Regions from separate parts of the Homo sapiens genome. Here region 1 is linked to region 2. Evidence: fine-mapped expression QTL. A gene starts in region 2. The other region holds a variant in brackets. All regions are shown on one strand. Distances are between the middles of the regions.

Region 1 (5,383 bases), 24 kb before region 2:
TTATCTATTTCACTGACGATTTCTCCCCTCATTTCGTGTATGCTTTTTTATATATATTTTTTTTTCGAGACAAAGTTTCACTGTTGTTGCCCAGGCTGGAGTGCAGTGGTGTGATCCTGGCTCACTGCAGTCTCCACCTCCCAGGTTCAAGCAATTCTCCTGCCTCAGCCTCCCAAGTAGCTGGGATAACAGGCACCTGCCCCCCATGGCTGGCTAATTTTTTTGTATTTTTAGTAGAGACAAAGTTTCACCATGTTGGCCAGGCTGGTCCCGAATGTCTGACCTTGGGTGATCCACCCGCCTCGGCCTCCCAAAGTGCTGGCATTACAGGAGTGAGCCACCGTGCCCAGCTTTGTATTGTTTAATTTTTTTATTTTTTTTTGAGACAAAGTCTTGCTCTTGTCCCCCCAGGCTGGAGTGCAATGGGATAATCTTGGCTCACTGCAACCTCTGCCTCCTGGGTTCGAGTGATTCTCCTGCCTCAGCCTCCTGAGTAGCTGGGATTATAGGTGCCTGTCACAGCGCTGGGCTAATTTTTGTATTTTTAGTAGAGACGGGGTTTCACCACCATGTTGGCCAGGCTGGTCTTGAACTCCTGACCTCAGGTGATCCGACCGCCTTGGCTTCCCAAATTGCTGGGATTACAAGTGTGAGCCACCGCACCTGGCCTCATTTTTTAAATTCCCTTAACTTGGACTTCATCTTTCTCTGGTGCCTCCTTGATTAGTTTAATGACTGATTTTCTGAATTCTTTTTTAGGCAAATCATAGATTTCTTCTTGGTTTGGATTCATTGCTGGTGAGCTAGTGTCATTTTTTGGGGCTGTTAAAGAGCCTTGCTTTGTCATATTACCAGAATTGTTTTTCTGGTTCCTTCTCATTTGGATAGTCTATGTCAGAGGAAAGGTCTAGGGCTCAAAGCTGCTGTTCAGATTCTTTTGTCCCATGGGGTGTTCCCTTAATGTAGTACTTGCCCTTTTCCTATGGATATGGCTTCCTGAAAGCTGAGCTGTAATGATTATTATCTCTCTTCTGGATCTAGCTCTTCAGCAGGTCTGCCAGGCTCTGGGCTGGTACTGGGGGTTGTCTGCACAGAGTCCTGTGATGTGAACCGTCTGTGGGTCTCTCAGCCGTGGATACCAGCACCTGTTCTGGTGGAGGTGGCAGGGGAGTGAAATGGACTCTGTGAGGGTCCTTATTTTTGGTTGTTTAATGCTCTATTTTTGTGTTGGTTGGTCTCCTGCCGGGAGGTGGTGCTTTCAAGAGAGCATCAGCTGTGGTATTATAGGGAGGATCAGGTGGTGGGTAGGGGCCTAGAACTCCCAAGAGTATATGCCCTTTGTCTTCAGCTAGCAGGGTACATAGGGAAGGACCATCAGGTCGGGGAAGGGCTAGAAGTGTCTGAGTTCAGACTGTCTTTGGGCAGGTCTTGGCTGCGGCTGCTTTGGGGGATGGGAGTGTGGTTCCCAAGTCAATGGAGTAATGTTCCCAGGAGGATTATGTCTGCCTCTGCTGTGTCATGCCGGTTGTCAGGGAAGTGGGAGAAAGCTGGCAGTCACAGGCCTCACCCAGCTCCCATGCAACCCAAAAGGCTGGTCTCACTCCCACCTTTCCCCCGACTCCCAACAGCACCAAGTCTGTTTCCAGCAGTGGGCGAGCAGGGCTGAGAACTTGCTGCAGGCTACCAGTCTCCCAGCTGCAAAAGCAAGCAGGGCTTTCGTGTCTGCCTGCTTTTGGAGTCTGCACACCAGAATCACTCCCTCCCCGGAGTTCTGGCCAGGAGATTTTGCATTCTGTTGGAATTGTTACACAGTTCAGCTGGAGGTTTCCTTTTCCCTGTGGTCTTTTCCCAGTTCCTCTGGCAGCCCTCCCCAAGGACTCCTGTGAGGCAAGGCAGAAATGGCTTCCCCGGAGACCCAGAGAGCCCACAGGGCTTATCCCGCTGCTTCCTCTACCCCTGTATTTCACTCAGCTCTCTAAATTGACTCAGCTGCAGTTAATGTCAGAATCTCCTCCTGTGATCTAGACCTTC[A/T]GGTTCCCCTGTGAGGGTTGTCTCACGCAAGTCTGTGTGAAGAGACCACCAAACAGGCTTTGTGTGAGCAACAAGGCTGTTTATTTCACCGGGGTGCAGGTGGGCTGAGTCCGAAGGAGAGTCAGCAAGGGTGGTGGGATTATCATTAGTTCTTATAGGTTTTGGGATAGGCGGTGGAGTTAAGAGCAATGTTTTGGGAGCAGGGGGTGGATCTCACAAAGTACATTCTCAAGGGTGGGGAGAATTACAAAGAAATTTCTTAAGAGTGGGGGAGATTATAAAGAACATTGATCAGTTAGGGTGGGGCAGAAACAAATCACAATGGTGGAATGTCATCAGTTAAGCTATTTTCACTTCTGTGGAACTTCAGTTGCTTCAGGACATCTGGATGTATATATGCAGGTTACTGGGGATATGATGGCTTAGCTTGGGCTCAGAGGCCTGACATTCCTGTCTTCTTATATTAATAAGAAAAATAAAACAAAATAGTGGTAAAGTGTTAGGGCGGTGAAAATTTTTGGGGGTGGTATGGAGAGATAATGGGTGATGTTTCTCAGGGCTGCTTCGAGCGGGATTGGGGTGGCGTGGGAACTTACAGGGGGAGATATTCAACTGAAGAAGGATTTTGGGGTAAGGAGTGATATTGTGGGGTTGTTAGAAGGAGCATTGTTATTCTCTTATTTGGAAGACACAAGGTCCGAATAAAAGAAGGAGAAAAACAGGTATGAAAGGACTAAGAATTGGGAGTACCCAGGACAACCAATTACAGAGTGTCAAAGGGGGTTCGGCATAATTATTTGCTTGGTTGGCATGTTTTTGGGCTCTATCCTTGAGTTTTTTTATGTTGTCATAGACCAGGCCAGATTGATTTAGGTAAAAACAACCTTCTTCATTTAAAAATATACAGAGTCCCCCCTACCTTTTTTTTTTTTTTTTTTTTTTTTTAGCAGTGAGTAAGTTAGGGCCTCCTCGAATTTGGAGGAAAGAGAAATGCAAAGCCAGCAATTGTTTGTTAAAGAAGGATTAGAAAGGGCTAGGAGAGAGTGACTGAGATTGATAGTGTGGTGGAGATAGCTGGGGAGAGGTAGAGGGTGGCATAAGAATGGGAACGAGAATAAGAGTAAGTATAAAAGTAAAGAATAGGACTTCATCAGGGTGAAAGTATTGGAGGGTACTTTATCACTGAAGATCTTCTATCCACTTCTAGATAGACTTAAGGGTGGCGATTTGAGGTAAAACCAGGAGCCACTAAATACCAAGAGCCTCAGAAACTGAGGTGGGAAGGCCAAACCGAGGAATTATGTCTGACAGAAGGGAGGAAATGACCATGGTGGCCTTCTCAGACCCTGTGAGAAAGGCCTCTACCCACCCAGTGAAAGTGTCTACCCATACCAAGAGGTATTTTAATTTCCTGACTCGAGGCATGTTGAGTAAAGTCAATTTGCCAGTCCTGGGTGGGGGCAAATCCCCAAGCTTGATGTGTAGGGAAGAGAGGGGGCCTGAACAATCCCTGAGTAGTAGAATAGCAGATGGAACACTGAGAAGTGATTTCCTTGAGGATAGATTTCCACGATGGAAAGGAAATGAGAGGTTCTAAGAGGCGGACCAGCGGCTTGTAACCTACATGGAAGAGGTTATGAAATGACAGAATAGAATGGGCCTGTGAGGCTGGAAGGAGATATTTTCCTTGGTACAAGAACCATTTGCTTTGTGTGGGAAGAGATTGATAGGTGGAAGTTTCAGTTGGGGAGTAGGTGGGAGTGACTAGATGAGGAGAAAAACTGCCGTGAGGGATAGAAGTTGGAACGCTAGCTGCTTTTTTAGCTACCTTATGAGCATAAGCATTGTCCTGAGTGATGGGATCTGATGCCTTTTGATGGCCTTTGCAGTGAATAATTCTAGCTGTCTTTGGAAGTAAAGCAGCCTTGAGAAGAGTTTTTATTAAAGAGGCATTAATGATGGAGGACCCTTGTGTAGTGAGGAAAACTTTCAGCTCATAAAGCAGCATGGTGGTGCAGGATATGGGGTCAGCATAAATATTGATGAGTAGTCCCTTTACAAGAGTGAGGACCCGAATTAAGGCAATGAGTTTGACTTGCTGAGAGGTAGTGGAGGGGGGCAGAGCAGTAGCCTCAATGATAGATGTGGAAGATACTATAGCATAGCCTGCCTTTGCTGGTGAGTGGTGATTAGGCTTGATGGAACTGCCATCAATAAGCCAAGTGTGATCAGGGTAACGAACACGAAAGAAGGAAATAAGGAGAAATGGAGTGAATGTCAGGTGGATCAGAGAGATACAGTCATGGGGGTCAGGTGTGGTATCCAGAATAATGTGGAAGGCCAGATTGAAGTCCAGGCCAGGAACAATGGTAATTGTGGGAGACTCAACAAAGAGTGAGTATAGCTGAAGGAATTGGGGAGCAGAAAGTATATGTGTCAGGTGTGAGGAAGAAAATAGATTTTGAAAGTTATGAGAGCTGTAGAGAGTGAGTTGAGCACGGTTTGTGATTTGGAGGGCCTCCAAAAGTATTAAGGCAGTGGCAGCTGCCACACGCAGACATGAGGGCTAGGCTAAAACAGTAAGGTCAAGTTGTTTGGACAGAAAGCCTACAGGGAGCGGTCCTGGCTCTTGTGTAAGAACTCCGACCGCACAGCCCTGCACTTCAGCTGTGTGTAATGAAAACGGAGTGATGAGTTAGGGAGAGCCAGTGTGGGAGCAACTTTTAGGGCTGTTTTTTAAGGAATGGAAAGGGGAGTGGGGAAAGGATTTAGGATCTGTGTGGTCAACTAGGTTTGCTTTTGTGAGTTTATATAATGGTTCAGTCAGGATGGTAAAACTAGGTATCCAAACGCGGAAGTACCTAACCATGCCCAGGAAGGAGAGGAGTTGTTTTGTAGAAGGGGTTGGGGTTTGGGAGATTAGCCGGACACAATCAGCAGGGAGAGCACGTGTGTTTTCATGCAGAATTATGTTGAGATAGGTAATGGATGAGGAAGAAATTTGGGCTTGACTGAAGTAATGGGGGCTGTCCGTGAAGCCTTGCAGCAGTACAGCCCAGGTAATTTGCTGAGCCTGATGGGTGTCAGGGTCAGTCCAAGTGAAAGCAAAAAGAGGCTGGGATGAAGGGTGCAAAGGAATACTAAAGAAAGCATGTTTGAGATCCAGAACAGAATAATGGGTTATGGAGGGGTTGTGGAGGGAGGTATTGAGGATAGGAGAGTATATGGCTTTGGCACCATGGGGTGATAGGCAAGACAATTTGGTTGTTAAGGTGCAGATCCTGTACTAATCTGTAAGGCTTGTCCGGTTTTTGGACAGGTAAAATGGGGGAATTGTAAGGAGAGTTTATAG
Region 2 (5,383 bases):
TATTTTCCTTTACCACTTATGTAGTCCAATGGGAACACTCTTGAAAACTAGAAGGAAGTTACAGAATTCATTTGTATCCCCCCAGGATCTTGCACAATACTGGGCATAAGTGTTCCAGTTTCCCCAAGGATGAACTGCAAACCAGATCAACACAATCTTAGCAACAGCAGCATAAGCTTGGTGTAGTAGCCTTTTCTTAAAAGAGAATCATCATGTAATAGATATCAGGTAGCTTTCTCATAGTTTGCATAATCACTAAACTCTTGGTGCCTCCCATTTGTTTTATGCTATATTAGTCCTTTTGGACTGTTATAATAAAACATCATAAACTGGTAGTTTATAAACAACAGAATTTATTTTTCACAGTTCTGGAAGCTGCAAGTCTAAGATCCAGGGTCCTGCAGATCTAGTGTCTGGTGAGAGCCAGCTTATTGATTCATAGATTACCTTCTGTCTGTGTCCTCACATGGCAGAAGAGGTCAACAAACTCCTTTGGACCTCTTTGATAAGGGCATTAATCTCATTCATTTAGGCTCCACCCTTTATGACCTAATCATCTCCCAAAGGCCCCAGCCCTAATACTGTCACCTTGGGGGTTAGGATTTCAACATACGAATTTTGGAGGAACACAAACATTTAGTCCATTGCACATCCCTCTGAGATTTTTCACCCGATCTTTCTTCTCAGTCTACTTTCTCTACCTTAATGAATCAACTCAATTTTCACCTCTTCTGTGAAGGAAACTTCCCTGACCTCCTCAGGTAGAGGGGACTACGCTCTCCTTTGTTTTTTACTACTTCTGGTATCCTACCCCTTCCAACACACATTAGACTGTATGTAATACTGGTGTGTGTGTGTGTGTGTGTCTTTATAGAAAGCCTGGGAGGAGTTCATTGCCATGTAGTCAGGGAGACAAATGTGTAACATAATATTCACCTCACATCTGTGTAGATTTACATGAGATATCCAAGGCACAGAGTGCTGCAGCTCATGTGCAACATATTTATTGAGTGCATGATAACATCAATAAATAACTTTTATATTAGGAGAGGGCGTAATTTACTAGAGCATTCCTCGAAAGGTCCCATCAGAAACTCCCCAAGATTTTAATAACTGTTCCTTGAAAAAAAGAATATATCGCTCAAATTGATTTGATAAGTTCAAGGTTGAATAAAGTTAAAATTTTTAATATGCACAAATTTTTAATTTTTCCCTGCAATACTTCTTGGAACTCTTAATGTGCCAATGTGCATTGTGAATTTCCAAAAGTGGATTCAGAATGCAGCATTTCCTAATTGTATTGGGCCATAAAATTCCATGTTCTCCATGTACCCTAGGACACAGTTTGGAGATATTGTTGAGAGTAGAGTATGATATCATTGTCACCATATATTAACTGCTTGATTTTGGGTCACCTCTTTATGCCTTAGTTTCCTCAACTGCAAAATGGGGATAATACCTTCCTGCCTGCTTCAGACAGGTGAAAAGAAATGGGAATAATACCTATATCTAATATTGTTGTTGGCAAAACAAAAAGGTTTATAAAATGTCCAGGAGTTCTTAGTAGATGTTAGCAATTACAATTATTAATAGTATGTCCAGGAGCCAACTCTTCATCTTCAGATCTCTAACACTTTGCAGAATACCAGATTTGAAGCTGAGTTAAATTCAGACTGTTAGTACATGTCTCAGCTTTAGAATGTAGGTGTCCAAAAAGACTTCCCCTCCACCTGTATCATTTGCCTTTTAAACAGAATCTGAGTCAATATATTAAGTTAGTCCTGTTCTGGCCATGGTCCTGTCCTTTAGTATCTTCTTGTAAAAAATAAAAATAAGAAGAAATGAGGTTCAACTAAATAACCTCGAGAGTTCATATTCCCTCTAAAATTTCAAGGTAAAACTAAAGTAATTCTTTCTCAAGTTGCAGCAGAAGGAGTTTTTGTATTTTCTAACTGGTCTGATAAGCACAAAGAAGTCGTTTTTTTTACTTAGAAATGCCATTTTACAGGAGGCTGAGGTGGTGGGATCACTTGGGCCAGAGCTCAAGATCAGCCTGGGAAACAGTTAGATACCTGCCCCCAGCACCCAAATTAAAAGTACAAAAAATCTGGGTGCGGTCGTGAATTCCTGTAATCCCAGCTACTTGGGAGTGGAGGTGGAAGGACTGCTTGAGCTCAGGAGTTGGAGACTGGGCAACAGAGCAAGACTCATCTCAAAAAAAAAAAAAAAAAAGAGAAATGTCACCACTTTAAACTGGTTCCCATCAACCTTTTTGATACAAAGAAATTTTACTTTTGTTAAACTATTTTAGACCACTGTATCAGTTATTATATGTGACTAGGTAGCATGATAACCTATAATTTATGCCTTGAAATAATTTTGACTCATTTTCTTCCCACATCTGTATTTATGAGCCGGGGCAGCTGTGGGGTGGTTCTTTGTGTGGGATTAAGAGACACTGCAGTTCTTGAAATAAACCAGATGTTTGAATTTTCAAAGGAAAAGTTCACACCTAGTGAAGTATTTATTTACAAGCTCCACAACAAAACAAGAGATTATAAGAAAACTTTCAAGGGACATGGGTCACAGAAACCAACAGGAACACCACAGCTTTCCCAACTTCATGGCCCCGGGGGATGTTACAAAAGACACAGAAACGCCGATCTTGTGCTGACTGTAAACATTTGTCAACTAGTGTTACAATGACTAAGAAATTACAAAAGAGTTACAATCTGATGAAGAGCGATTCCTGCTTTGACTTTATTTGGTTTCTATCCACTTTTCCAACATACCTTATAAAATACATGCAAAAAACTGGTTTTAGAAAGCGTTCCCTAAAATTAGTGTGTACGGAAACTTCAGGTATACTTCTGCTTTCCTCCGCAAAACCACCCCTTTTTAAAAATCGAAAGTGAAATTAGTTTTTTTTTCTGTTAGTGACTAATCATTGGAGACAACCATGTTTAGTATTTGAGCATTGGTTAAATGCTAAAGAAAAATCGCCGTTAAAGCAGTTTTCTTTTTCACTGTCTTTTTCTTTTCGCGGGGAACCCAGCTGTTCCTGCGAGGGCCACCTCCTCAGGAAGACCCCGCAGCTCTCCCGCGGCGCTTCTGCAGGAGGCAGCGACAGTTTCGAGAACCCGGGCCTTCCCCTCCCAGTGCCTCCCGGGGTTCCGGCGTTTCAGGCGCTGCTGTTTTCCGGGAAGGGCAGGCGCGCTGGGCCTTGGGGAGCTGCGCTCGGCGGGCGGACGCGGGTGAGTGGGGAGTCCCTTCCCCGGCTGCCACTCCCGCCGCTGGCAGTCCCGGGCTGGAGAGCCGGGGGTGGAAAGGGAGGTGGGAGCCCTCAGCGCCGACGGAAGTGGGACAGCGCCGGAGTTGAGACCCTGCTCCCCGGGAGCTGCCCGCAGCCGAGTCGCGGAGGCCACGCCGCCTTCGAGGGGGCGCACCTGCTCCTGGGCCCGCTGTGCAGTCTCTGGGCCGTCAGGGCTTCGAGCCTTGTCACTTGTTTGCTTTGCTTCATTGAGGAAATTGAAACATAAAGTTATTTGTGTTTCCTCGCTGTTTTCTCTCTTTTTTTTTTTTTTTTTTTTTTTTGAGACGGAGTCTCGCTCTGTCGCTCAGGCTGGAGTGCAGTGGCGCGATCTCGGCTCACTGCAAGCTCCGCCTCCCGGGTTCACGCCATTCTCCAGCCTCAGCCTCCCGAGTAGAGTAGCTGGGACTACAGGCGCCCGCCACCACGCCTGGCTAATTTTTTTTTTTGTATTTTTAGTAGAGACGGGGTTTCACCGTGTTAACCAGGATGGATACGATCTCCTGACCTCGTGATCCGCACGCCTCGGCCTCCCAAAGTGCTGGGATTACAGGCGTGAGCCACCGCGCCCGGCCCTCGCTGTTTTCTCCGAGTGTCTCTGGAGATAGTCCTTAGGAAAACGGATTTCTTAAGAAAACGATTCTTGGTAGGGGCAGTGTTGTGCAGTCATGGCTGGCGTGTCAGAATAGGCAAGGTTTTTCTTGAAGGAGACATCCGAAGGAGAATACTGTGTTTCCAGTCTGTACAACAGGCAGACGTTCTATTGCCTTTCTTTTTGCTGCCACGCATGCATATAGGAAGATTCGATTCTACACGGCCTGGCACCGCAGTTATATGATTGTATTACGGAAATACGGTGATGTTGATTTGTATCAGTTTTTTTAATTCGCTGCCATAACAAATTACATGGCTTTAGTGGCTTAAACACATAGGAACGCGCGCGCGCGCGCACACACACACACACACACACACTCACATACACAATTTACTATCTTAGGATTCTGTAGCAGTCCTACTGAGGTCTCACTGGGTTAAAATCAAAGTGTTGGCAGGGTTGCCTTCCTTTCTGGAAGCTCTTGGGGTGAATCCTCTTTCCATCTTCCGGAGGCCACCTACCTTATTTGGCTCAGCAGCCCTTCCTCCATCTTCAGGGCCAGCAACATTGCGCCTCTGAAAGTTCTTCCGGGGTCACATTTCACTCTTGACTCTTCTTCTGTCTTCCGCTTTCACTTTTAAGTAGCCTCATGATTACACTGGGCTCCCACAGATAATCCAGGATGCTCTCCATATTTAAAAGCAAGCTGATTAGCAACCTTAATTCAATCTGCAGCCTTAATTCTCCTTTGCAATATAAACTAACATAATCACAGATTCTTGGGATTAAGATGTGGACATCTTTGAGGGAGCCATTGTTTTGCCTACTACATGATTGCATAAAAGGAATGACCATACATCCCACTCATGCATAGAGCAAAAGTATCCAGATGCAAAAGATGCCAAAAGGGTTCTGGTGGTGTTAGATAGTAGACCATTTATGCTGAGAGCCTTTATTACAGGCTCTTGGAATATTGGCATTGTCACAATAATAAAAATAAAAAGCAATTAAATAACATTGCAGTTTCTGTCTTCTGAAATGTAATAAGAGGACTTCATATACATGTGATGTCCTGAGTACAACAAATACTTAAGTCAAGATACCACATAATTCTCTAAATGGAGTGTTTTCAGTGTGTAAGCTTATACTGAGAAAGTGCTCTGAATGTCTGCAGGGAGGAGTAGACATGGTCCCAGCCCTCAACATGTTTACTGATGTGTCACGGAAAATGACATAGGTACACACGTAATTAAAGCGCCGCAAAGGAGATAAAGGAGGGGGAGTAACATCCTTTGGGGGAATCAGAAAAGGCTTCGGGAGCTTGGGGAAAATTTGGAATGGACCTTGAAGAACAGTAAGATTTCATTAGATGGAGATTAAGTTTGGGAGAGGAGGAAGGATGTGACAGTTTGAGGGACAGAGGAAAGAAAAGGAACTATCCAAGTGTTCAGTGTGGTTAGGGAACTGGGTTGAGGAAT

Alleles and levels. Positions count from the first base shown, and alleles are read on the strand shown. Sizes are in standard deviations (SD) of each study's normalised expression.
In carriers of allele T in region 1, the expression in adrenal gland of the gene that starts at base 3,179 in region 2 tends to be higher than with A alone (small effect, 0.25 SD a copy in GTEx).

What was found.
Region 1: its variant is fine-mapped to the expression of NMI in adrenal gland (GTEx, PIP 0.96).

What each region holds. Positions count from the first base shown.
Region 1 is chr2:151,311,894-151,317,276 of GRCh38, reverse strand. No RefSeq gene overlaps it. Among named protein-coding and RNA genes, the nearest start is that of NMI, 25 kb to the right of the region's middle. The variant A/T (reference allele first, on the strand shown) is at 2,032.
Region 2 is chr2:151,287,464-151,292,846 of GRCh38, reverse strand. It overlaps NMI (N-myc and STAT interactor), which reads left to right and starts at 3,179. Exons shown (of 8, transcript NM_004688.3): 1 at 3,179-3,254. RefSeq lists enhancers at 2,591-3,010, 3,071-3,150, 3,541-3,590, 3,611-3,660, 4,461-4,630 and a silencer at 3,211-3,410.